4 linked regions of the Homo sapiens genome follow. The protein of the gene in region 3 purifies or fractionates together with the protein of the main gene of each other region. This does not show direct contact. Each region holds a gene or a part of one and is shown on either strand. Other genes may lie near its edges.

Region 1 (2,951 bases), on a different chromosome or scaffold from region 3:
AGAGAAACATTTGATGGATGCAACTGTAATTTGAAGTTTGGCAATACAGCTCTTCTCAAATTTCTTTTACTTCTTAATTTATTGTTTAAAAATGAACATAAATATCCATTATTATTTTCACTCATGCTTTCAGAAGAAACTAAAACAAGCAATGGAGACCTGTCTGACAGCACTGTGTCTGCTGATCCTGTTGTGAAATGATACGGATGGTATTCACTGCACATATGATGAAATCATCAGAATTGTTAAAACTTTTGCCAGTGGAATGGATAAACTATTGATGAATTGTTTCCTGGGTCACATCTCTGGAAAATAGATGTTACAGTTCTTAAAGGCAGTGCTTTAAAGTGAAGTTCATTCTGTTTCCAAAGGCTCTACTTTCAAAGGTTAAGAATGAGATTTTAAAATTGGATTTTTGCCTGGACTTGAGGGTACAAGATGTTTCTATTTGAAGTGAAGTTATAAAAGGGCAAATCCAGATTCATAAACTATCACCTCGGATTTCTTGTAATCTACATGTTTGTAATTTGTATTTGCATAGATCTTTGATCTATAGTTATTTCAAGTCATGGGAAATTCAATGCATATACTATATACAGCCAGTAAATACATGCTTAACAAAAGGAATGAGCCTGAAGTTCATAAAGAATACATATCAATATTCTTATAAAAGGAATATATGAAGATGGCTTTGATACTAGAGGTGAGGCACAAGTGTTTTATGTACTCTCAGTGTACAGTATAACTGATGATCCTTCTTTCATTGTTAATTTCATGTGACTCACAAGAGCTGCTGATGTCTTTGATGAGACATTTTATAACTAGTTTACATTGCTTTGAGAACATTTAACCTCCAACAGCTGCTTTAAATTTAAGATTTACTTAATACTCAGAAAATTCAGATAAAGCCATAGAGTCCTGTTTGAAGCTTCACTTCTATTTTGGTTGAAGGCATGATGTATGATGTCAGAAAAAAAATTGAATGAATTATTTCTACATCCAAACTCAGGTTTCTTCTACATTAGATTGAATTGAAATTTTGGTGATGGTTTGGGTAGACTTTTTTTTTATATCAAGTATAATTTAAAACATCAGATTAAATAATTACACTGTTCAGGCTTTTAAAAAAATACCACTGTGAGAATAAAGCGCTAGCAAGATACATCACTTACTGATTTTAAAAATACAGAAAGATTTTGAGTAAATTTTGTGCCCAGCAAGCTGTTAGTTTTATTTTTGTAAAGGTATGTAAGTTATTAAATGGTTAATCATGGCCTTTTAAAAATAAAATAAAGTGATACCTTTACAATGAAGACAAAAGTTTAAAACTTTCTAATACAAACACCATTTTGGGAAATGCTTGATTTTTTTCTATTGCATTTGTCTGCTAAACATTTCTTTGGATAAATCCTGCAAATACTTCTAACATTATTCTTTGATTCCAGCTTTTAGAATGGGTGTACAATGCCCTGTTTGTACTTACTGGTTAGGGTCAGGGTAACTTGCCAGCCCAAGATAAATACTTTAATTGTTAAAAGTCAGAAGAGACAGAATATGTAGGAAATGTTTTTTGTTTATTATGTAAACATGGCTTACAGAATTATGAACAGTGGATAGATTAAAGGCATTTAATATTTGTAATTCATAATAACTGTAGAAATGGCCCTAAAGCATGCTGCATAATTAATAATTTATATTTTCATTATTATAAGTGTTTATATTAATGATCTTGCATTTGATTATATCAAATTCGTCATTTCATAGCAACAGTATTGTTTTCTCTGTTTTTCTTCTCTAACTTCTCTGAAATCATCTCCTATTAAGGGATAGAAATTGTTACTAGAAGAGAATCACATGTTCTGTGTTCATTATCCCTACACATGTAAATTAATTATTTTATCAATACTAGATAGAGTTCACATGCTGACTCCCTGGATACCTACAGTTGAGAAGAAAATGACAGACAATTATTTTTCCTTTAGGTCAAAATAATGTCACTGCTATCTGGATAAATTATAAGTTCATATATTTGAAATAAGATCCTGGAAACGAATTTAAATGGTGTCAAACTGCAGAGCAACAGGGCTTCAGTATATTCACATCTAATAGGTTAATATGTACATTTGGATGATGATTTTTCTTGATAACATTAACATTAATTTTATTTTTTCAGACATACTGTAATTTAAAAATTAATGTGAGCGTTTGTTTTAAGTTCACAGAAAACTTAATAATTCAAATTCTCAGGAATTAAGGACTCACCATAACATTGTCAGTTCTAATGAAATTTTGTAAAAGATGGCAAGTTTGTTACCTCACTTGAGTGGGGTTTTCCTTTTCCCCCAATTCTAAGAGAATATAATGTGTATACTAAAACATTAATAAACATAATTTTGAAAATTTCCTTCCCCTGGATGTTTATGTTCAAAATTGAATGTCGTAAACCAGTAGTTCTTAATATTAACCTTTTTGGGGTCCCCCTTAATTGAATGAAATGAAATCTGTGGAATCATTTTTTTATAAAATGCATGCACATAGGTAAAAATTTGAAGTTTAAAATTGGCTCCTGTCAATGTATTCCAGGTGAAAGAAAGGTGTTTTCTTTCCTTTATACATCCTTGATCTTTCCAGAGCTTTTTTCCAATAAAAAGAACCAATATGAAGTTACTTTAAATCCTAATCCTGGAAAGGGATTATCAGTATGCATTGTTTAATGTTAGTAATAACTATAGTGCTATTTGCAAACCTGAGTTGAACTAAAACAATACAGTAGTCTCCCCTTATCCGTGTTTTACTTTCCAGTTTCAGTTACCTGTGGTCAGCTGTGGTCTGAAAATATTACATGGAAAATTCCAGAAACAATAAGTTTCAACTTGTGTGTTATTCTGGGTAGCATGATGAAATCTTGTGCTGTCATGCTGCATCCCGCCTGGGACGTAAGTCACCCCTTT
Region 2 (7,493 bases), on a different chromosome or scaffold from region 3:
TATAAAAAAGCAAATGGTTGCCAGGCACAGTAGCGTGTGCCTATAGTCCCAGCTACTTAGGAGGCTGAGGTAGGAGGACCACCCGAGCCCAGGAGTTTGAGGCTAGCCTGGACAACATAGCAAAACCTGTCTCAAAAAAAAAAAAAAAATTAAGGCCGGGCGTGGTGGCTCATGCCTGTAATCCCAGCACTCTGAGAGGGCGATCACCTGAGGTCAGGAGTTTGAGACCCACCTGGCCAACATGGTAAAACCTCGTCTCTACTAAAAATACAAAAAAATTAGCCAGTCGTGGTAGCAGGCACCTGGAATCCCAGTTACTAGGGAGGCTGAGGCAGGAAAATAGCTTGAACCTGGGAGACGGGGGTTGCAGTGAGCCAAGATCGAGCCACCGCACTCCAGCCTGGGTGACAAGAGCAAGACACAGTCTCAAAAAAAACAAAAAAAACAAAAAATTAAAATTAAAAAAAAAGGCAAATGAGTGACCTTTCATCTCACCCATGACAATTATGTAAAAATGGTCAAGAAAATCAAGGTCCCCTTTTTCTATCACATTTAGACCAAAGCAAACTCTTTCAGATTCTCATTTACAAGTTTCATAGAAAATAAGCTCTAATCTTTAGTCTAAGGATATCCCCCACACTTCATTTCCTAGCTAAAAAGTACTGTGTTCTAGCTTAATCTCTCACGTTTCACTGAAAGGATAAAATAAAGCCTTCCACAAGACCAAGAGCAGGGATACTCCAGAGTCTCTCCCCATAACTGCCTACTCAAATAAAACATTTCTCTCACCTTGGCTTAGAAGTTATTTCCCTTACCGTGAAATTCAAAGACGTAGACATTCAAGGGACTACCCGCCTTATAACCCACACACTTTTTTTTCCAAAGCAAAATGTTAGGGTCAGAATGTACTAAGGTTTTAAATATTAAATAAAACCCTGTTCAGACCTAGAATGATAAGACAGTATACTAACTGCAGTCTGTAACCCACAAATAATTTCTCCTTATTCCTCTCAAATCCAAGAGCCGGGATTGTTAGTACACACAGAGAAATTCCTGTACTTTAACACCAAGACCAGAGGTTAAAATAACTGGTCACAGGTGACAACTCAGGCACCTCAGAACCAAAATAGAAGAAATACTCTGAGCACTTAAAACAATCACGGTACAGTACTCTACGCAAGCCACAGTCAACAGAAAAAAGTATACACATAAAATACCGCCCCTTGGGATCACAAGGTCAGGAGATCGAGACCATCCTGGACATGGTGAAACCCTGTCTTTACTAAAAAATACAAAATATTAGCCGGGAGTGGTGGCACGCGCCTGTAGTCCCAGCTACTCAGGAGGCTAAGGCAGGGGAATCGCTTGAACCCAGGAGGCGGAGGTTGCAGTGTGCCGAGATCGCGCCACTGCACTCCAGCCTGGCGACAGAGCGAAACTCCATCTCAAAAAACAAAAACAAAACCCGCCCCTTTTTCCCCAGAACCCAAAAGAAGTTAATGCCTACCATCCCAGGTTGCTCAGACCTAAAAATGTGTACACATTAGAGTACACACAGAAGAGTTAAAGAAATGAAGGACTTCACTGCAAAGGCAGAGTGAAGGTGTCCAGCCGGGCACGGTGGCTCATACCTGTAATCCCAGCACTTTGGGAGGCCGAGGCGGGCGGATCACCTGAGGTCAGGAGTTCGAGACCAGCCTGACCAACATGGTGAAACCCCGTATCTAATAAAAATACAAAATTAGTCGGGCGTGGTGGCGCACGCCTGTAATCCCAGCTACTCGGGAGGCTGAGGCAGGAGAATCGCTTGAACCCGGGAGGCGGAGGTTGCAGTGAGCTGAGATCACGTGTATTCTAGCGTGGACAACAAGAGCGAAACTCCATCTCAAAAAAAAAAAAAAAAAAAAAAAAAAGAAGAGGTTTCCACAGGTTGCCCCACTTTCTCCAAGCCTAAAACCTCCGAGTTCAGCTACCCAGCTATTCCGAAGCTCAGGGATGCCCTGGAACTTCCTTTTCCTGTCTAACTTCACAAAAGGTCCCAGAAGGAGGAGTCACGTGATTTTTCAGGGTAAAAGCCGAGAGATCCCTAATACTCAAACCTGTCTCAAACTGAAGAGGGAGAATAAGAACCGTCCTTAAGCACACAGGTAAGACACACACAAGGCAGAAGGCAAATAAACGTATCCCTCAACTCTGAGGAGAGGCAAAGAAGAGAAACGATCTTTGCACCAGCTCTGTCTCTGTCTCTGTTTGTCTCTCTCAGTACCAAGGGCAGGGACTCTGGCAAGACCCCGCCCCCCACCCCCAACTCCAAAGCAGGGTGGGCGGGAGGCAGCCTGAGGAGTCCCTGTTCCCGCGCGAAGCTCAGAGACCAAAGGACTCCCTATTGTGGGTCTACGAATGGTGACGGGAACCTGTCCCGCTCGAGCTAAAGAGTAAGCCGAGGGCTCACTAGGCCCTCACCGCGGCCACCGCCGCCATGGAGCCGACCGCTGTCACAGAAGGGCTCCACCAGGGAAGCGGGAGGATGGCCCCGGCCCAGAGCCTACCCAAAGAGAATTCACGCCTCACAATGTGTGGGAGGCGAGGGTCCCGGAGCCTTACCTCGGACACTTCGTCCTCGTCACTGCCAGAGGCACCACCTCCACCCCCGGTCCTCAGCACGGCAGCCGCCAACTTGAAATCCAGCGCCGCGTCCCCTCCGCCCGTACCGCTGCCGCTGCCGCCGCCGCCGCTGCTGCCGACTCCCGACGCTGGCCCGGCCTCCCCAAAGAGCCTCACGGTGCGGATCCCCAGACCGACCCCTCCCGGCGGAGGCGGCTCCGAGGCCCCAGCTGGGGCGGATCGCGGAGCCACAGAGTCCAGGTCCTCCTCAAAGGAGGTGCCGCCGCCTCCGCTATCAGTCAGCATTGTTCGCACCCGGAGCCGGAGACGGTGCCGACCCACTCGCGGTCACCGCCGCCGCTGATCTCGGGAACGAGAAGAGCAGCAAGAGGAAGAAGCGTCTCCTTTCCCCCGTCCCAGCAGCGCCACTAACTTCTCACTGCCTAACCTGCTGCCTCCCGCCCCCTCGACTCGCCACTGGCTGCAATACCCTGGCGGCTGCAGATCATTGGCCAAAGTGACCCGTCGCTCAGGCTCTTCGTCACGCGCCGCTCGCTGGCTCGCAGCCGCCAAGCTGCGTTGACCCGCGCAGGCCTAGGCGGTTGCGAACACCCGCCTCCCACTCTTCACCAGCTGACTTCCGCTCTTTTCCTATGTCTATTGGCCAACCCGCCTGACTATCGCGTCACGACCTTAAAGTGGATTAGTTGGCCTTGTGGTCAGTCATAGTGACCCCGAACAATGGGAGAATTCATTGGCGCCATAAAGTGTCGGTCACTTTGTCGCGGGACGTCGCGTGGTACAATTGGCCTGTGGGAGTACCATTGATCCCGCCCTCATCTGAGGTGACGGGAAAGGGCCGGGAAATTTCCACTTCTGAATAAAATGACTGCTGAAGTGATGACCCGCAAGAATTGGTCAAATTTGGAGTAGACTTCACCCTGCGCTTGGTGAAACTTCTACGTCAAGGATGCAAGAGGCGCCGAAGTAACGCAGCTCCCACCTGTCGCTCTCCGCTGGGCGCCGAGACTATGGCCGGAGAATAGCTGCACCGGGATTGGAGAAAGGAAGCCATCAGTCTTAGGAAGGCTCCACCTTCCTGCCATTGCCTGGTTGGAGGAGCGTAGCGTCAGTCACTAGAGCAGTCACCACCTCTGGGACAGGTGAAGATGTGTAACCTATTTGCCGGGGGCTATTTGGGAGGGAATAGAGGACGGGGAGCGATGAGGGGACAGTCGAGGGGCAAGGCCGATCTCGCTTCGCGCCTCCCGCCTTTCTGAGTTGAGCCTAGCGCGCGGGTCTGAGGGACATCCGGGGAGCTGCTTGGGATGGCCGCCTTGGGGAGACTCGACCCGCCCGCCAGGACCCGGCCGCGCGCCGCAGTTCGGGCGCCTTCGGGCAGGATCGCCCAGCGGGGCCGCGTTCTCCTGCTTGCGGACGGCTGCGGGCCTGAGGGCTGGACAGCGCCATGCCTCAGTACCGGGAACTGTCCCACGTAGGAAGGTGGGAATGCCGCGAACGGCGTGCGGAATCCGACCTCAAGGTGGAACGGGGTGGTGAAGAGTGCATGCTCCGAGGCAGTTTCGAGTTCTGGTGCTGCCACTTACTTGCTGCCTGACTTCGGCGCGTTTGCTGTTTCATTTTTGTGACTTTCAACTCGCTCCTCTGTGAAATGGGAGTAATATTAGTACCTTCCTCATTGGGTTGTTGTTATGAATAAATTAGATGATAATATAGCGCTTAGCAAAGTCCCAAACTTACAGGAAAGACTCATTTTTGCTAGTTATTGTCTCCTCTTCCTTCAGGAACTCTCTGCTCGCCCCTGGGTCCTGCCAGCCCAACTAATTCTAGTTCTAATCAGATCTGTGTGGTGCAAAACAAGGCTAGCTGTGGTGGTCTTCCCTCCTCTAAGGAGATCTCTTCCTCCCTATATGCATCTCTCTATCTCTGTCTTTATCTTGTCAGTAAAGAGGGGGGTTAAAAATATTCAGATTCTATAGCGGGCGCCGTGGCTCACGCCTGTAATCCCAACACTATGGGATGTTGAGGCGGGCGGATCATTTGAACCCAGTAGTTCGAGCCCAGCCTAGGCAACATGGTGAAATCCCGTCTTTACCAAAAATACAAAAATTGGGCTCGGCGCGGTGACTCACGCCTGTTAATCCCAGCACTTTGGGAGGCCTAGGTGGGCGGATCATTTGAGGTTAGGAGTTCTAGACCAGCCTGGCCAACATGGCGAAACCCCGTCTATACTAAAAATACAAAAATTAGCCAGATGTGATGGTGCGTGCCTGTAATCCCAGCTACTCGGGAGGCTGAGGCAGGAGAATCACTTGAACCCAGGAGGCGAAGTTTGCAGTGAGCCAAGATCGTGCCACTGCACTCCAGGTTAGGCGACAGAGCAACACATCGTCTCAAAAAAAAAAAAAAAATTAGCCGAGCATGGTGGTGCATGCCTGTAATTCCAGCTACTCAGGAGGCTGAGGTGGGAGGGATCCCCTGAGCCTGGGAGATGGAGGTTGCAGTGAGCCGAGATCGTGCCACTGAACTCCAGCCTGAGCAACAGAGCGGTGCCCTGTCTAAAAAAATTAAAAAAATAAAAAAAAAACGGTTTCTATCTAATCCTTTAATCAGACATGACCAAAAAAGGAGTCTGGTGGTTTGTATGGAAAATATCCTTTGACCCAGAGAATGTCCATATGATAACAGAATTTGGCTGAAAAAAAAAAAAATGGCCGGGCGCAGTGGCTCACACCTGTAATCCCAGCACCTTGGGAGGCAGAGGTGAGCGGATCACGAGGTCAGGAGATGGAGACCATCCTGGCCAACATGGTGAAACCCCGTCTCTACTAAAAATACAAAAATTAGCCAAGTGTGGCGGCGCGTGCCTGTAATCCCAGCTACTCGGGTGGCTGAGGCAAGAGAATCGCTTGAACCCAGGAGGCGGAGGTTGCAGTGAGCCGAGATCGCACCACTGCACTGCAGCCTGGCGACAGAGCAAGACTCAGTCTCAAAAAAAAAAAAAAAAAGTCATTTTCTCCTCTCTTACAACTTTAACAAAGGCCTTTATATATCTCAACTGTGCAATATTTAATATTTCGTCATCCTTAAACTGGGATCTTAAAATTTTATAAGAATATAATGATTTTTAAAATAACTTTAAAAGTTGATTCTGCCAAACATTTATTTAAAAAACATTTTGAATATCATAAACATTTCTTTGGCTTAGTAATTGCTCATTTTGACATTTCACATGTAAAGGATAGTGTTTTCTATGAGCAGAACATGTTTGTTAAATGTTCTTTCTAGATAATAAATAAGTTGTAGAAAATGTTAAAAAAAAGTCTTGTACCTATTCTAGAGAACTATTTTAATGTAAATGCTATGTACACTGGCTTTAGTTAGCATTTGTGGAACTTAATTAGCCTATATCCTCAGTGCTGTTAAGTTTTCAAGGCATGTGTGACTAAGTCACAACCCAAACTAATAACACCAACAAAAGAAACCTGGCACTGCCCAACCCACTTCAAAGCTGGATTATCCAGAATTGGTATGGATACATCCTTAGGCAAAAACAGGTATTGACTGGTACAGCATTACAAAGGAACTAGTTGTCATGCTTACTACTGATACAAAAATAATTTCTGATGCAACTCCCTGAACAAACTCATTAAATTCTTTAAACAAATACAATGACTCTCAAGGACACAGGGAAAGGAAATCTGGATATATATACATTTTTCTCAATTTATTTGAGAGGGAAGAAAACACTCTCTTTACTCAGTGCCTAGCAACTAACCCTGAGTATAGCTAAAGAAATGTGATTGAGCAATAATCTTTGTTTCACCAGGACCTTTACTTGAGATACTTGTCAGTAGTTTGACAGTCAGTATGGGAATTAGGAACTCCTAGTCTCCTATATTTTGGTGACTGCTATATAGAATCTCTATTAAATGTGATTTAATGGCTGGGCATGGTGGCTCACGCCTGTAATCCCAGTACTTTGGGAGGCCAAGGTGGGTGGATCACCCGAGGTCAGGAGTTCCAGACCAGCCTGGCCAACATGATGAAACCCCGTCTCTACTAAAAATACAAAAAATTAGCCAGGCGTGGTGGTGGGCGCCTATAATCCCAGCTACTCAGGAGGCTGAGGCGGGAGAATTGCTTGCACCTGGGAGGCAGAGGTTTCAGTGAGCCAAGATCACACCACGGCACTTCAGCCTGGGCAACATGAGTGAAACTTTGTCTCGAAAAAAAAAAAAAAAGAAAGAAAGAAAATGTGATTCAATAGTTCCATATATACTACATTCCTATGGTTTTAAAATTTGAAAACTCATTGATAAATCATCACAATATCAAGTGATACATTTGACAAATAAATAAAATCACACTCAGGCCAGGTATGGTGGCTCATGCCTGTAATACCAGCACTTTGGGAGGCTGAGGTGGGTGGATCACTTGAGGTCAGGAGTTCAAGACCATCCTGGCCAACATGGTGAAATCCTGTCTCTACTAAAAATACAAAAATTGGGCTGGGTGTGGGGTCTCATGCCTGTAATCCCAGCACTTTGGGAGGCTGAGGCGGGTGGATCACAAGGTCAGGAGTTCGAGACCAGCCTGATCAACATGGCGAAACCCCATTTCTACTAAAAATACAAAAATTAGCTGGGCGTGGTGGCACGCACCTGTAATCCCAGCTACTCAGGAGGCTGAGTCAGGAGAATCGCTTGAATCTGGGAGGCAGAGGTTGCAGTGAGCTGAGAACACGCCATTGCACTCCAGCCTGGGTGACAGAGCGAGACTCTGTCTCAAGAAAAAAAATGGAGTGGAGATTTGCTCAGTGGCAGTATCATAGCCAAAGGCATCATTATTGCTAATTGAAAACTTTT
Region 3 (7,000 bases):
GTACCATGTTGGCACTCAAAAGTGTTGGATTTTGTGACATTCTGATTTCAGATTAGGATGCTCAACCTGTATAGTAATCTAGAAATGATTTAGACTATACAAGAAGATCTATATAGAGTATAGGCAAATAGCACACCACTCCATATAACAGACATGAGCATTAGTGGATTTTGGCACCTGTAGTGGGGGTCCTGGAACCAATCCCCTACAGATACTGAGAGATGACTGTACACATATTCATGCATGGTAATAAGAGTGTGGTTCTAATTTATTATTATTGTCCACTCTTTTTCCATCTAAGACCCTGAGAAGGTAACAATCTGCTTCCCTGGACCAGTGGATGGAATTTTTCTAGCTCATTTCTCACAAACATATGGTAGTCCTGTTTCGGCTTCCAGCTTCACATAGGAGATCAATTCTAGCTCCCCACATCACATTAGCCCGAGGTCTTATCTCCCATCCATACTGGCCTTAAAATCCCAGCCCCTAAGCATTATATCTGGATTCAATGTTCCCTGGAACTATTTAGCTTCAGCTCCCATTTACAGCTCTGATTTTGCTTTCCTCTCTCTTCCTGGCACCTAAGGATTTCCCTTTCTTGCTTTCAAGCTCAGCTCTGTATTGGAGACTTTTAATCCAGCATTTCTGCATGGCTGGAATCAGGTTAAGAGTTCCACATCAGATAATATCAACATATGGAACTAAAGAAGTCCAAACTCTTTAGCATGGCATAAAAGGCCTTCCATGACTTGGCTCCTGACATTCTTTTCAGTCTCATCATTTGCTCCAGATACGCCAAACTATTTACAGCTTCCTTTTGAATTTCATACCTTTGCCTGGGATGTTCTTTCTTTACCTCATTTACCTGATAAATACTTATTCATTTTTTAAGACTCTCTTCAAGCATCATGTCTTCTATGAAGCCTTTCTTGCCTCTCCTTTACCACATTTTACCATACTCCACTTTGCGTCCCTCTGCAACTTGTATAGACTCCTATTATTGCATCTATGCTTTCTGCAAATACTTACCATCGACAAGGCTGTCTTTCCCTTAAGGGCTGGAACCATTTCTCATTTATCTCACTATCCCCAGTGCACAGTAGGTGTAACTGAACAAAACTATTTCTACCTTCAAGGACTAAGTACAGTACAGTTTTCAGATATGAAATTTTAGGTCAGGAATAGGAAAAACATCAGTCTATTCAAGAGCAAAAGAATTCCATATATATCAAGAAATGTCTCAATCTCTAACTATGGGCCAGAAAATAGATTGCTCAAATTATTTGGAGGAACAAGAGAAATGGACACAAAATATCAATAAGGACACTACAATGAGGAGTAGAATAGTTATTGCCAGAAAGAAGATGTGCTTTCCAATATACCATCTGGTTTTACAGTTGTGGATTGCTGAAATGTCAGGTTTGACAAAACCAATTAGGGAAAATGATTCACTCATAAGCAGTTACGTGGGCACCATTCCACTGGTGGGGGCAGGAGGCAACATATTGGCTAGTTGATCCTACAAAGGCAGGAAAGGTTCATAGAACCTTCTGAAGTGATGAACCTAAAAGAATGAGTATACTCTAGGACCTTTTAATTTAAAAAATTCTCTTATTGCAACCAACAGAAGAAATCACTTCCTCTTAAGGGAGTAAAAAGAGATTAACCAAATTAACCTTTACCACTTAAATGGACATTACATGAGCTCTATTGAGAATCACTTTTATAGAATGTGATACACCTATGGCAAAATTACTTGTAATATATACTGATAACAGAAGTACAATGGTCCTAATATTCCAAGATTTTTATACCTCTTCAGTTTGGCATTCAGAAACTTCCACTTTTTTTTTTTTCCAGCTCACCCTATCTATAGGGGACAGACTATGAACCCAGATTATCTAGTTCAAATCCCAACTTTGCCACTAATGGCTACATGACTTCAAGCAAGCTACTTAATCTCTCTGTGCCTTAGTTTTTCATCTGTAAAATATAAATGATAAAAGCATACATATCACAAAGCTATTATTAAGATTTAAAGAGTTAATATATGTAAAGCATTAGTTAGCACAATGCCTGGACCATAAAAATGGACTCAATAAATGTTAGTAGTAATCCTTATTACTACTATCATCCTCCTCCTCCTCAGCTTTGGTTTTACTATACAAGCCCCTCCTTTTCCATACATGAAAAGAGGAAACTATTGGTTTTTACTACATACCAGGCACAATGGTTAGCCCTTTCAATATGAATTTATTTATTTCACTCTCATAATAATCATGCAGATGGGGTACTGTTATTTCTGATGTTACTGATGAGGAAACTGAGGCTTAAACATTTAGTAGGTTCTTGGCATTAAAACATAATGCTCATGTTTGGAAGTCACTTGGCAGAAAGTGGACCTAGCTGATTCTAACATTCACATTTAACTCAATTTCTTTTTAATTTGCCATTGTGAACACACCAAGCATCATGCATACATAGAGGAAACAGAAGAGCACATACCACTCATTGAATGGTTATATGTCACTACTTCCCTAGAGTATATCAGACCTAGTCAAATCCTCCTGTCCCTTTATGGTGCCCTGCCACATAGCCTTCTTTGGGCACTAAAACAGGGACTAAGCTCTCTCTTCTCTTACCTCTTTTTTTTTTTGTTTGAGACAGAGTCTCGCTCTGTCACCCAGGCTGGAGTGCAGTGGCATGATCTCGGCTCACTGCAACCTCTGCCTTCCGGGTCCAAGTGATTCTCCTTCCCCAGCCTCCTGTAATCACGAGTAGCTAGGATTACAGGCGCCCACCACCACACCCGGCTAATTTTTGTATTTTTAGTAGAGATGAGGTTTCACCATGTTGGCCAGGCTGGTCTCAAACTCCTGACCTCAGGTGATCTGCCCACCTCAGCCTCCCAAAATGCTGAGATTACAGGTGTGAGCCACCACGCCAGGCCTCTTCTCTTACCTCTTAGCCCTTATTGTCTATATGACAATTCTGTAATGGATCACATATAATTTTTCCTCATTATTTTATTTTATTTTTGAGACAGGGTCTTGCTCTGTTGCCCAGGCTGGAGTACAGTGGTATGATCATAGCTCACTACAGCCTCAACCTCCTGAGCTCAAGCAATCCTCCTACCTCAGCCTCCCTAGTGGCTAGGACCATAGGCGCATGCCACCACGCCCGGCTAATTTTTTTTTTTTTTTGAGATGGAGTCTCGCTCTGTCGCCCAGCTTGGAGCGCAGTGGCGCAATCTCAGCTCACTGCAACCTCCGCCTCCCAGGTTCAAGCAATTCTTCTGCTTCAGCCTCCCAAGCAGCTGGGACTACAGGCGCGCGCGACCACGCCCAGCTAATTTTTTATTTTTAGTAGAGACAGGGTTTCACCATATTGGCCAGGCTGGTCTCAAACTCCTGACCTCATGATCCACCCGCCTCAGCCTCCCAAAGTGCTGGGATTACAGGTGTGAGCCACTGCGCCTGGCTGCTAATTTTTTTTGGTAAAGATGAGGCCTCACCATGTAGCCTCACCATGTAGTTTGGTCTCAAACTCCTGGGCTCAAGTGGTCTTCCTGTCTTGGCCTTCCAAGTGCTGGGATTATAGGCATGAGCCACCACACCTGGCTTCATTATTTATTAACTTCTTATAATTTGATCACTTTTCAGGAAGTTTCATGAGGGTTTGTATTTTGATCTTAAGTTTCTCTCATGTTCTCTATAGTACTTAGCATTGTGCTGGGCATAAGCTGTTTCACAACATTTGTAGAATACTTTACTATCAAAACCCTACAACGGCATGCCAGAATACAGATGATTACTGTTTATTCAATACATTTTACCTACAGTGTAGCAGGCACTGTGTTAGGTTTTGGAGCAGATCAGAACATAATAAGATATTACAGTCCCGGGTCTCAGGAATTCATAGTGGATTGGAGAAAGCTACAGGTAATCAGACAATTACAATACAGTAAAGTAAATGCTTCCACAGATATTTGAACCAAACGTTGAGAGTACTAATGAGGGAAGGATTAACTCCCTTAGAGAACCCAGAAAGCATTTCAACATTCATTTATTTGACAAATATTTATTGACCACTTAATATGTGTCAGGCACTGTGCTACGTCCAAGGGCAGAGAAGTAAATAAAATACTCAAGATCCTGACAGAGTGTGGTGGCTTACGCCTGTAATCCCAGCACTTTGGGAGGCCAAGGCAGGTGGATCACCTGAGGTCAAGAGTTCAAGGCCAGGGTGGCCAAATGGTGAAACTCCATCTCTACTAAAAATACAAAAATTAGTTCGGTGTGGTGGCAGGCACCTGTAATCCCAGCTACTTGGGAGGCTGAGGCAGGAGAATCGCTTGAACTCAGGAGGCAGAGGCTGCAGTAAGCTGAGATCATGCCACTGCACTCTAGCCTGGGTGATAGAGCAAGACTCTGAGTTGAAAAAAAAAAAAAAAAAGAAAACTCAAGGTCCTGTACTCATGGAGTTTATAATCTAAGATTTATAGGCAAAGTAGTTCTTGAGTGGGTTGACAAATGGGTAGAAATTGACTCTGTAAAAAGAAACAGAAGGGCTTTCAAGGAAAAGGGACAAGCATCAAGTTCAAGGAAGCCCTGAAGGCATGGAAGGGAAGAGCTTATACAAAGAACAGCAAGAGGCTGGGCACAGTGGCTCACGCCTGTAATCCTAGCACTTTGGGAGGCCGAGGCGGGAGGATCACGAGGTCAGGAGTTCAAGACCAGCCTGGCCAAAATAGTGAAACCCCGTCTCTACTAAAAATACAAAAATTAGCTGGGCATGGTGGCGTGTGCCTGTAGTCTTAGCTACTTGGGAGGCTGAGGCAGGAGAATCGCTTCAACCCAGGAGGTGGAGGTTGCAGTGAGCCAAAATCTCGCCACTGCACTCCAGCTTGGGCAACAGAGTGAGACTTCATGTCAAACAAACAAGCAAACAAACAAAGAACAGCAAGAAATAAGGTGTGGCTGGAATGCGTACATATAAAGCAGGGGCTACAAGGTATGAGACGATAAGCGCACTGGGGTAGAACAGGTCTCACGTGCCATGCCAAGCCTTTTATTTTACTTCATTTGGTCATTCAGAAAAATGTACTGCAGCCTACTATAGGCCAAGTCCTGTGCCAGGAACCAGTGACACAAAATCAATGAGACATAGTCTTTCAAGAAGCTCAGAGTATAGCGGGGCACAGGCATGTAAAGAAACAACCATGATACAGCACAAATAAGTGCAATGATACAGACATGTTTAATATACAGGGATGGCTCAGAGAAGGGAGTGATTAGATTGGCTCTGCGTCTCAGGGACAAAAGGGTGGTCAGGAAGGGCCCAATAGTAGAGGATTTGAACTAGGTCATGGGAGATGAATAGGATTTTATAAAGTAATGATAATAACAATAATAGCAAAGACTTACAAAGTACTTAGTATTGGCCAGACTCTGTACCAAACACTTTACATATGTTGACTCACTCAAATTTCATAATACCTTATAAAACAGGTATTATTAATCCCCATTTTATAGATTAAGATGGACACAGAGAGGCTAAATAACTTGACCAAGGTCACGAAGGTAGTAAGTAGCAGAGCTGGGATTTTAGTAAGGCAGTCTGGCTCCAGAGTCTATGTTCTTAATTATTGCATTATATTGCCTCCAAGACAAGATAGTAAGGGAATTCCAGGCAAACAGGACAGTATATGCAAAGGCACAGAGGAAGGAAAGAGCACAACATCTTTGGGGAATTGTGAATGGTTGACATTGGATGAGGCATAAATAAAAAGACTAGCAGGGGATGAGGCAGGCAGGCGCCAGGTCATGGAAGGCCTTGGGTGTCATGTAAAAAACTGTGATCTTTATTGATGGGTAATGAGAAATTATTGAAGGATTAGGCAGGAAAGTGACCTGAGTAGATTTTCTTTTCTATTTGAGACATATTTCTCTGGTGTAAGAGTGGAAGGGAGGTGAATGCGGGATGTCAAAGGCAGGGAGACAAGTCAACAGACCATAGCACTGCTCTAGATGAGAAGTATGATTCTGAACTTAAAGTGGAAGACAATCAAGTGAGTATGGGCAAGAAGGATTTTTAGGAAGTAAAACTAAAAATTGGGGCCAGGCGTAGTGGCTCATGCCTGTAATCCCAGCACTTCAGGAGGCCAAGGAGGGCAGATAGCTTGAGCCCAGAAGTTCAAGACCAGACTGGACAACATGATGAAATCCTGTCTCTACAAAAAAAAAAAAAAAAAAAAAAAATTAGCCAGGTGTGGTGGCATGTGCCTATAGTCCCAGCTATGATGTGATCATAGTCCCATGATCACATCACTGCATTCCAGCCTGGGTGACAGAGCGAGACCCTAAAAAAAAAAAAAAAACAAAGAAAAAAGAAAATTGGATATGAGAAAAAAGAGTTAAGGATGGTTCCTAGATTTCTAGTCCCAGTTACTTGGTATACGGATATACATTAATACAGGAGAACAAGGAAGAGGTTTGGAAGAAAAGCTAATGCATTTAAGGGGAATGTTATTAAATATGCCTTTTGTTTTATTCTTTTTTTTTTTTTAAATGGTGTCTCACTTTGTCACCCAGGTTGCAGTGCAGTGGTACCATCCTGGCTCACTGCAACCTCCAGCTCCCAGGTTCAAGCAATCCTCCCAGCTCAGCCTCCCAAGTAGCTGTGACTACAGGCGCTCCCCACCATACCCAGCTAACTTTTGTATTTTTTGTAGAGATGGGGTTTTGCCAAGCTGCCCAGGCTGATCTCGGACTCCTGGGCTCAGGTGATCCATCTGCCTTGGCCTCCCAATGTGCTAGGATTACAGGCATGAGCCACTGAGTCCAGCCTGTTGTTTTATTCTTATTCCATAATTTTCACATCATTTATTTTCATCATCACACATAGTGATTTTCAACTAGGGCACGAGCAGGAACCCAGAGGGGAGAGCGGTAGGAGGAGGTATATTAGAATATGGGTGTTTGGGCCAGGTGCCGTGGCT
Region 4 (7,051 bases), on a different chromosome or scaffold from region 3:
GCCTTATTCTAAATATTAGTTTTTCAGAGCATATTAAAGAATTCTGGGACTTAAGGAACATTTCTTGTGGGAAAATCTTCAATTTTCAAAAAAAGAATGCTTGGCTAAGAATTTTTTTTTAATAACAAAACAAGTAACCACTTTCTGACATTACAGTATATTTATAGTAAGGTTTTCTTTGATTGACGTGAGTTATGCTTATCGTGATGGTTTTGGAGGGAACAAAAAATATTAATTTCTACCATATATTCCTTAAAGACTTGGGCATTTGTTTTATGTGGCAAGATTCACTGTTTCACTACTTTCTGGGAGACAGAAATATAAATTCATGTTTTATATATAAGTATGTAAGATGTATATTTAAACACACACAGACAACCTGCGTCGGCCTTCATTGTTTACACACTTCTTAATCTCATTGTCCTGTGATGACTGAGGCAACAGTTCAAAGATAGCTTTATATACTATGGGTCAAACAACTCAGCATTCTTTAAAGCATCATCTTTACATGTACAAAATAATACTAAAAATGAATAGCCCATGAACCAACCTACCATTCATTACCCAAGTCACTCACTATGGGGATAGGATAGGACTGAATTACATAAAGGATGGATAATACGACTTTGTATTAAAAGACTAGCTGGGTACACGGTTGGCATTCAAATGCTTGCTCATTAGATTAGTGATCGAGGAGAAGGGTACTCAAGATTTAAACACTTCTAAGACATTTGTCTGGGGTTAAGAAAGTGAATTTTGAAATTGAATTTTGAAACTAGTATCAAGAGCAATGTACTTCAAAACAAAAAATTAGAAACAAAAATGTAAATTAGCCTAACAGAACCAAGCTAGGCGGAGTAAACTCCAATGCATTTGTATACTAAATGGCAGCCAAGCACAAATCCCACACTTGAAAAATTATCAGCTTTTTCCTCTACAGAACACTAATTTTTTTTCCAGTAGAAGAAACCTAAGGCAGAGAACTGTGGATGCTGTACTACAGTACTCAATACTCTAAAATAAACTCAAAGAGAAAAAGGAAATAACAGGCAAACATTCTGGGAAAAAAAAAAAAAGACTCAATGGAGAAAAAGATGAAACAAAGCCTGTAAGTAGGTCACCTCATTGCTTTTGCTAATGCCAAAGTACCAATCCTTATCATTTTTATTACCAAGAGTTACTGAAGGAAAACACCAACCTTTGTGTTGGCTGCAATCCAATTGGAGGTTTCACTGTCATCATCACACTTTTTAATCCATTTCTTTAACCACTGTTTGAAAATAACAACGGTTAGGATACAACAAAAGACTTTTAAAAATAGCAAATTACTTTAGCACTTAACTATAGTCAAGCTTAAATGTAAAAGCCAATGAATAAGATTATCACTAGGCTCACATCCTCTTAAGCCAGGGAAATCCCATAGCTACAATGTCCAGTATATATAAAATCAACCAAAGCAGGATTTTCTTTGGCAGAAGCTGAGTGGGGAACCTAGAGCTTGAAGAGAAGCCCAACTGCAAGGTGTGTATTCCCCTAATTACAAAGCCTGACAAAGAGGTGCCTTAGCCATGGTTATCCTAATAACAATCAGGAGCTGACTTGGCTTATCCTAAGGAATTACCTCTGAATACATGTAATGATCATCTGAAATTAAAAGGATAAAAAAAAATCTATCAATAGATAGATAACAAAATCATCAGCTATGATTTTTAGTCACTAAGTCTTAGAAGTGTGCCATTATTTAAAAATTGAAATGTCAGACAAACTCACCTTACATTTAACAGGATCATGCCAATTTTCTCCACAGTTAAAGCTGTTAAGTGACACAAAGAGTTAATAGAATTAAGGCCTACCTACTGTAAGCAAGTAAATAAGCCAATCATTTCATGCCTTATAGTTCCACAGTATTGTCACTAGTTTCTAGTGACTGGCAAATACAAGGAGAGAACCCATGTCTGCTTTACAGTTAATTACCTAGAATTTAGTAGTAGAACTAGCACATAGTGGGTACTCAATATGTGTGAAGAATGACTATAAGCATGAAGACACGCTTTGATGACAATTTCATAATAATTGTTGCTAAGGTGCCTCAGACTATATTGAGAAGTTTCAACCCATGCTTCATCAGTGCATTTTTAATCTTTTACTTAACACCCTAAATGAAGAATAAAAGGCTGACTTTGTAGGTTACTTATATAATTTAGTACTAATACACAGTAAACAATATATGGGAAGCAAATAGGTCACATCTTTGCATTATTTAAACAAATGAACCTCCGCCCTGTAGAGGGAAATGGTACTGGGCAAGGTATAAAACAAAAAGACTAAATACTCACTAAACATGTGTTAATCAGTAATTCACTTTTGTTTTCTAAGTTCATGACATATACACTTGTAAAAGAAGTATAATTAACAAACACAAATGCTTAAGAAAAAAATAATAAAATGACAGATTAATTAGCTAATTAAGTAATTTACGAATGGCAAAAAGTCCTTTGCTAAAGACAGAAACAAACTACTATTGATTTAAATCAGGTTAAGATAAATGGTTATTTCTGAAAAGAAAGATGGGGAATGGGAAGGAGCAGGGAACCAAGGAGCTTCAAATATATGTGTCATGTTTTATCTCTTAATGAAGAAAAACAAAATACTAATTTTGATTTAACTGGATTGTAGCTATATAGGTATTCACTGCTGTATTCTCTATACTTTTATGTTTGAAATGTGTCACGCTAAAAATACATTGGAAAGTAGGTATTATCCACCTTTTCTCTAAAATAACAATACATAATTAATCTTTATCGAAACAGTATGTATTTTACACATACTTAATCTCTGTGAGCTTACCTGCTCTTTTTGGAAATATTTATTATTAATGATGTGTTAAGTGTAATTCTATAGATGTTTGGAGGAAAAAAAGAAAGGTATGGAATACCAATAAAATATTTCCCCCTCCAAACCACCCCGCAGCAAAAAAGAAAATCTGGCTGGCCATGGTGCTTCTCACCTGTAATCCCAGCACTTAGGGAGGGCCGAGGCAGGTGGATTACTTGAGGCCAGGAGTTCAAGACCAGCCTGGCCAACAAGGTGAAATGCTGTCTCTATTAAAAATAAATACATAAATAAATAAACAAATAAATAAATAAATAAAAATTAGCCAGGCGTGGTGGCACACGCCTGTAATCCCAGCTACTCAAGAGGCACAAGAATCACTTGAACCTGAGAAGCAAAGGTTACAGTGCGAGATCGTGCCACTGCACTCCAGCCTGGGTGATGGAGTGAGACCCTCTCTCAAAACAAAACAAAACAAAAAATCTATTTGCTGGGTCTAGAGCCCCTTGACTTGATTGGCTTCTTACTCCTCAAGACCCTCAAAGGAACAGAAAATCATCTTAACTTCTAGCAGGATATAAATGTTTGTGTCCCCCTAAAATGTGTATGTTAAAACTTAATAACCAATGTGACAGTATTAGGATGTGGAGCCTTTAGGAGGTGAATGGAATTGGCATCCTTTTTAAAAAAAAAAGGGGCCCAGAGAGCTGCCTTGTCCTTTCCACCATATGAGGACCCAGCAAGTAGGCACCATCTATGAACCAGAAAAGCAGGCCCTCGCCAGACAACAAATCTTTTGGCACCTTGATCTTGGACTTCTCACCCTTAAGAACTGTAAGAAATAAATTTATGTTGTTTAGAAGCCGCCCAGTTTATGGTCTTTTGTTATAAAAGCCTGAACATTAAGACAGAAAATGGTACCAAGAAGTGAGGGTGCTGTTCTAACAAAACCAAAAATGTGAAAGCCGATTTGAAACTAGGTAGTAAGTAGAGGCTGGAAGAGCTTGGAAGTGCAAGCTAGAAAAAGCCTAGATCACTGTGAATGAACTGAATTGTTAAGGGTAATTCTGGTGAGGATTCAGAAAGACAGAAGTGCAGGGAATGCCTCAATCATAGAGAAAACCTAAATAAATGGCCATGAACAGAATGTTGTTAGAAATATGGACAGTAAAGGCCATTATGATGAGGTCTCAGATGAAAATGAGGAACATGCTGTTAGAAACTAGAGGAAAGGCCATCCTTGCTATAAAGTGGCAAAGAAGTTGGCTGAATTGTTTTGTGGAAGGTAGAGAAATGAAACTGAATATCTGGTTGAGGAAATTACTAAGCAAAGTGTTGAAGACGCAGCTTAGCTTCTCTTGAATGTTTATAGAAAATGCAAGAAGAGATGAATGACCTAGAGATAAACTGTTCATCAAAAGGAAATAAGAAGTCAAAAATTTGAAAAATTTTCAGCCTATCCACTTTGGAAAAAACTAGAACACCTATAAAGGAGCCTGAACTGATTAAGACATCCCCTAATATGTGGCACTGGAAACTTCCTGGCAGTTCAAATCTAGAATTCAGAGGCTGAAGAGTATACTATAGAACTCCAAAAGCCCAAGTTACCAAGAAAGCTGGGCGAGAGGAGCCACAGGAAAACTCTTAGTTAAAAAGGAGACCATCAGCAGAATTTACCTGCACATTTCCTTTGCATAAGTAAGGTTAAAATTTGGCAGAGTAAAGAAAAACGTATAGTCCCAGATCTACAAGTTTGCTCCCATTAAGTTACAGTGGAGCATACAGGAAGATATGATTAGAGTTGTATATTTTCTCCATAAAAAAAAATTCAAAAAAGTTAGAACATCAAGGAAAGAGGAAAAATTTTTTTAAGATGTGACCTTTTCATTCAATTCTGAAAGAGATATATACTATTTTAAACCAGTATCAAACATCTCCCTGCCTAAGGTAAACACTTTTTTTCTGCTATTTTACTACCAAGAATAAACAGGAGAAATGGAAACGCTTTGTGCACTATTTCAATTTAGGAAATCACTTGCTTACCAAAATTGGCGCCCACATTTGCAGCGAACAGGTTTAGCATCAGGATATTGGACTTTAACAACATGGTGGCAATCTGGGGCAGGACACCACTTTAACAGTCGATTGCACTGAAATACAAGTTAGAAAATAAAAAATGACAGCTGGCTGGGCACAGTGGCTCACACCTATAATCCCAGAACTTAGGGAGGCCAAGGCGGGAGGACTGTTTGAGGTCAAGCACTCCAGACCAGCCCGGGCAACATAGCAAGACCTTGTCTCTACCTTAAAAAAAAGAAAAAAGAATTTAGCCAGGCATGGTGGTATGTGCCTGTAGTCCCGACTACACAGGAGGCTGAGGCAAGAGGATCACTTGAGCCCAGGAAGTAGAGGCTGCAGAGAGCTGTGATCATCTGCTGCACTCCAGCCTGGGTGTTAGAATGAGGCCCTGCCTCAAAAAAAGACAGCAAATTAAATTAGGTCATGATGCAAGATTTCCTAGTACATCAAGCTATTTATATTGCTTCTCTGGTACAAGGGGCAAATGGGGGATAATTACACAAGCTTATGAAAACTTGCTGTGGTCTTCTATAGCAACACTTCAGATGTGCCTTTTTTTTTTTTTTTTAAAGATGACTGATCCCTGAAGACCTGGTTTTATAAAATACATGAATCACCTCTTGTTCTATCTTCAAAATCCCACTGAATAACTTTAATTAAATATCATGTATGTGACCATTAAAAACCACTAATTTATTTACAGTTCTATTTCAGAACAATTTTCAAAAGACACAAGAAAATCAGATATACTCTTTATCAAGGAAGGTGTTTAGAAGCTACAGAATAGTTCAAGATAGGCTAAAGGATATACATACAACTTCTCCCATAAAAAGCTCTTGTAAGAAGGAAAAAAAAAAACAAACAAAAAACCCAGTTCCTAAACCACAGGCAAAGATTGCATTTTAGTTCCTCAAAAGGAAATATAACTTTTATAGTATTATGAAAAAAAAACACTCTGCACCAGAATTCAGAAGTCCATTGACCATTTCAAATAATACACTATTTCTAAAATAGGCTGTTTCCAGGTTTAATCTCTAACAGAAATAATTACTTTCTAGAATTAAAAGACCAAGTTACTGATGTTGTCATACAGGGGCTGAAAAACTCCTCTGTAACAAGCCAAGAGGGTAAAGAATTTTGGTTTTGCAGGCCAGAACAGTCTCTGTAGCAACTACTCAACTCTGCCACTGTAGCACAAAAGGAGTCATAGAACAAATGGGCAAAGGCATGGTCCAATAAAGGATAGCATTCTTTATTAACAAGATTTACTGGTAATGAAACCTAAAACGAGCAGAGAAATAGCAGGGTTAGAATCTCAAACATGATTAAACATGACACGATTAGTAATCTACTACAATTCTCAGCTAGGGATAAAGAAAAGTAAAGGAAGAATACAGTAAAAATAATTTTATTATCCAAGGTCAAGATCTATGGAGAGATGTACTTACTGGTTTCTCATACTCTTTTATTTTATTTTATTTTATTTTTTATTAAGAGGGAGTCTCGCTCTGTCACCCAGGCTGGAGTGCAGTGGCGCCATCTCGGCTCACTGCAACCTCTGCCTCCAGGGTTCAAGCGATTCTCCTGCCTCAGCCTCCCGAGTAGCTCGGATTACAGGCTTGTGCCACTGTGCCCAGCTAATTTTTGTATTTTTAGAAGAGACAGGGTTTCGCCATGTTGGTCTTGAACTCCTGATCTCAGGTGATCCACCCGCCTCGGCCTCCCTTAGTGCTGGGATTACAGGCATGAGCCACCACACCTGGCCTGTCATACTCTTTTGAGAATAAAGGTATTTTGGCATGCTTCATAAATATGTTAAAGATGTTTTTTACTGTCAATAAATTATAATTTTTAAAATAGTATTTCTATTAATAAACAGAATTCCTTCTTACAAGAAGGAAAACAAATCACTTACCTCTACAAAGCTATTTGTTATTAAATGCTGATACTTTAATTTAACTTTTGAATCTGTGATCAGGCGCCTGAAACCAAGAATAAAAATAGATTAGAAAGTTTCCAGTCAAGAGTATTTTCCACATTTATAAAACATAGTTTCAAAAGCTGTTTATGCTACGGCTACATGTTTATGCCCTAAGCTGTAAATACTGAAATGCACATAGGCTATCAACAAATATAACTG

Evidence for each region.
Region 1: the proteins of TCEANC2 (region 3) and WASHC4 purify together in Homo sapiens (affinity purification with mass spectrometry; 2 studies listed by BioGRID and IntAct, with this or other methods). This does not show direct contact.
Region 2: the proteins of TCEANC2 (region 3) and ANKHD1-EIF4EBP3 purify together in Homo sapiens (affinity purification with mass spectrometry, with the first as the bait; 2 studies listed by BioGRID). This does not show direct contact.
Region 4: the proteins of TCEANC2 (region 3) and ARIH1 purify together in Homo sapiens (affinity purification with mass spectrometry; 2 studies listed by BioGRID and IntAct, with this or other methods). This does not show direct contact.

What each region holds. Positions count from the first base shown.
Region 1 is NC_000012.12:105,166,731-105,169,681, forward strand, and holds the end of WASHC4 (WASH complex subunit 4), read left to right. Parts: intron 1-133; coding exon 134-201; 3' UTR 202-2,400; downstream 2,401-2,951. UniProt on the Homo sapiens protein: Acts as a component of the WASH core complex that functions as a nucleation-promoting factor (NPF) at the surface of endosomes, where it recruits and activates the Arp2/3 complex to induce actin polymerization, playing a key role in the fission of tubules that serve as transport intermediates during endosome sorting.
Region 2 is NC_000005.10:140,397,385-140,404,877, reverse strand, and holds the start of ANKHD1-EIF4EBP3 (ANKHD1-EIF4EBP3 protein), read right to left. Parts: upstream 3,046-7,493; 5' UTR 2,911-3,045; coding exon 2,605-2,910; intron 1-2,604. Other genes in the region: ANKHD1 (ankyrin repeat and KH domain-containing protein 1), read right to left, coding at 2,605-2,910. UniProt on the Homo sapiens protein: May play a role as a scaffolding protein that may be associated with the abnormal phenotype of leukemia cells. Isoform 2 may possess an antiapoptotic effect and protect cells during normal cell survival through its regulation of caspases.
Region 3 is NC_000001.11:54,056,608-54,063,607, reverse strand, and holds part of TCEANC2 (transcription elongation factor A N-terminal and central domain-containing protein 2), read right to left. Parts: intron 1-7,000.
Region 4 is NC_000015.10:72,561,325-72,568,375, reverse strand, and holds part of ARIH1 (E3 ubiquitin-protein ligase ARIH1), read right to left. Parts: intron 6,894-7,051; coding exon 6,827-6,893; intron 4,983-6,826; coding exon 4,876-4,982; intron 1,814-4,875; coding exon 1,771-1,813; intron 1,271-1,770; coding exon 1,199-1,270; intron 1-1,198. UniProt on the Homo sapiens protein: E3 ubiquitin-protein ligase, which catalyzes ubiquitination of target proteins together with ubiquitin-conjugating enzyme E2 UBE2L3.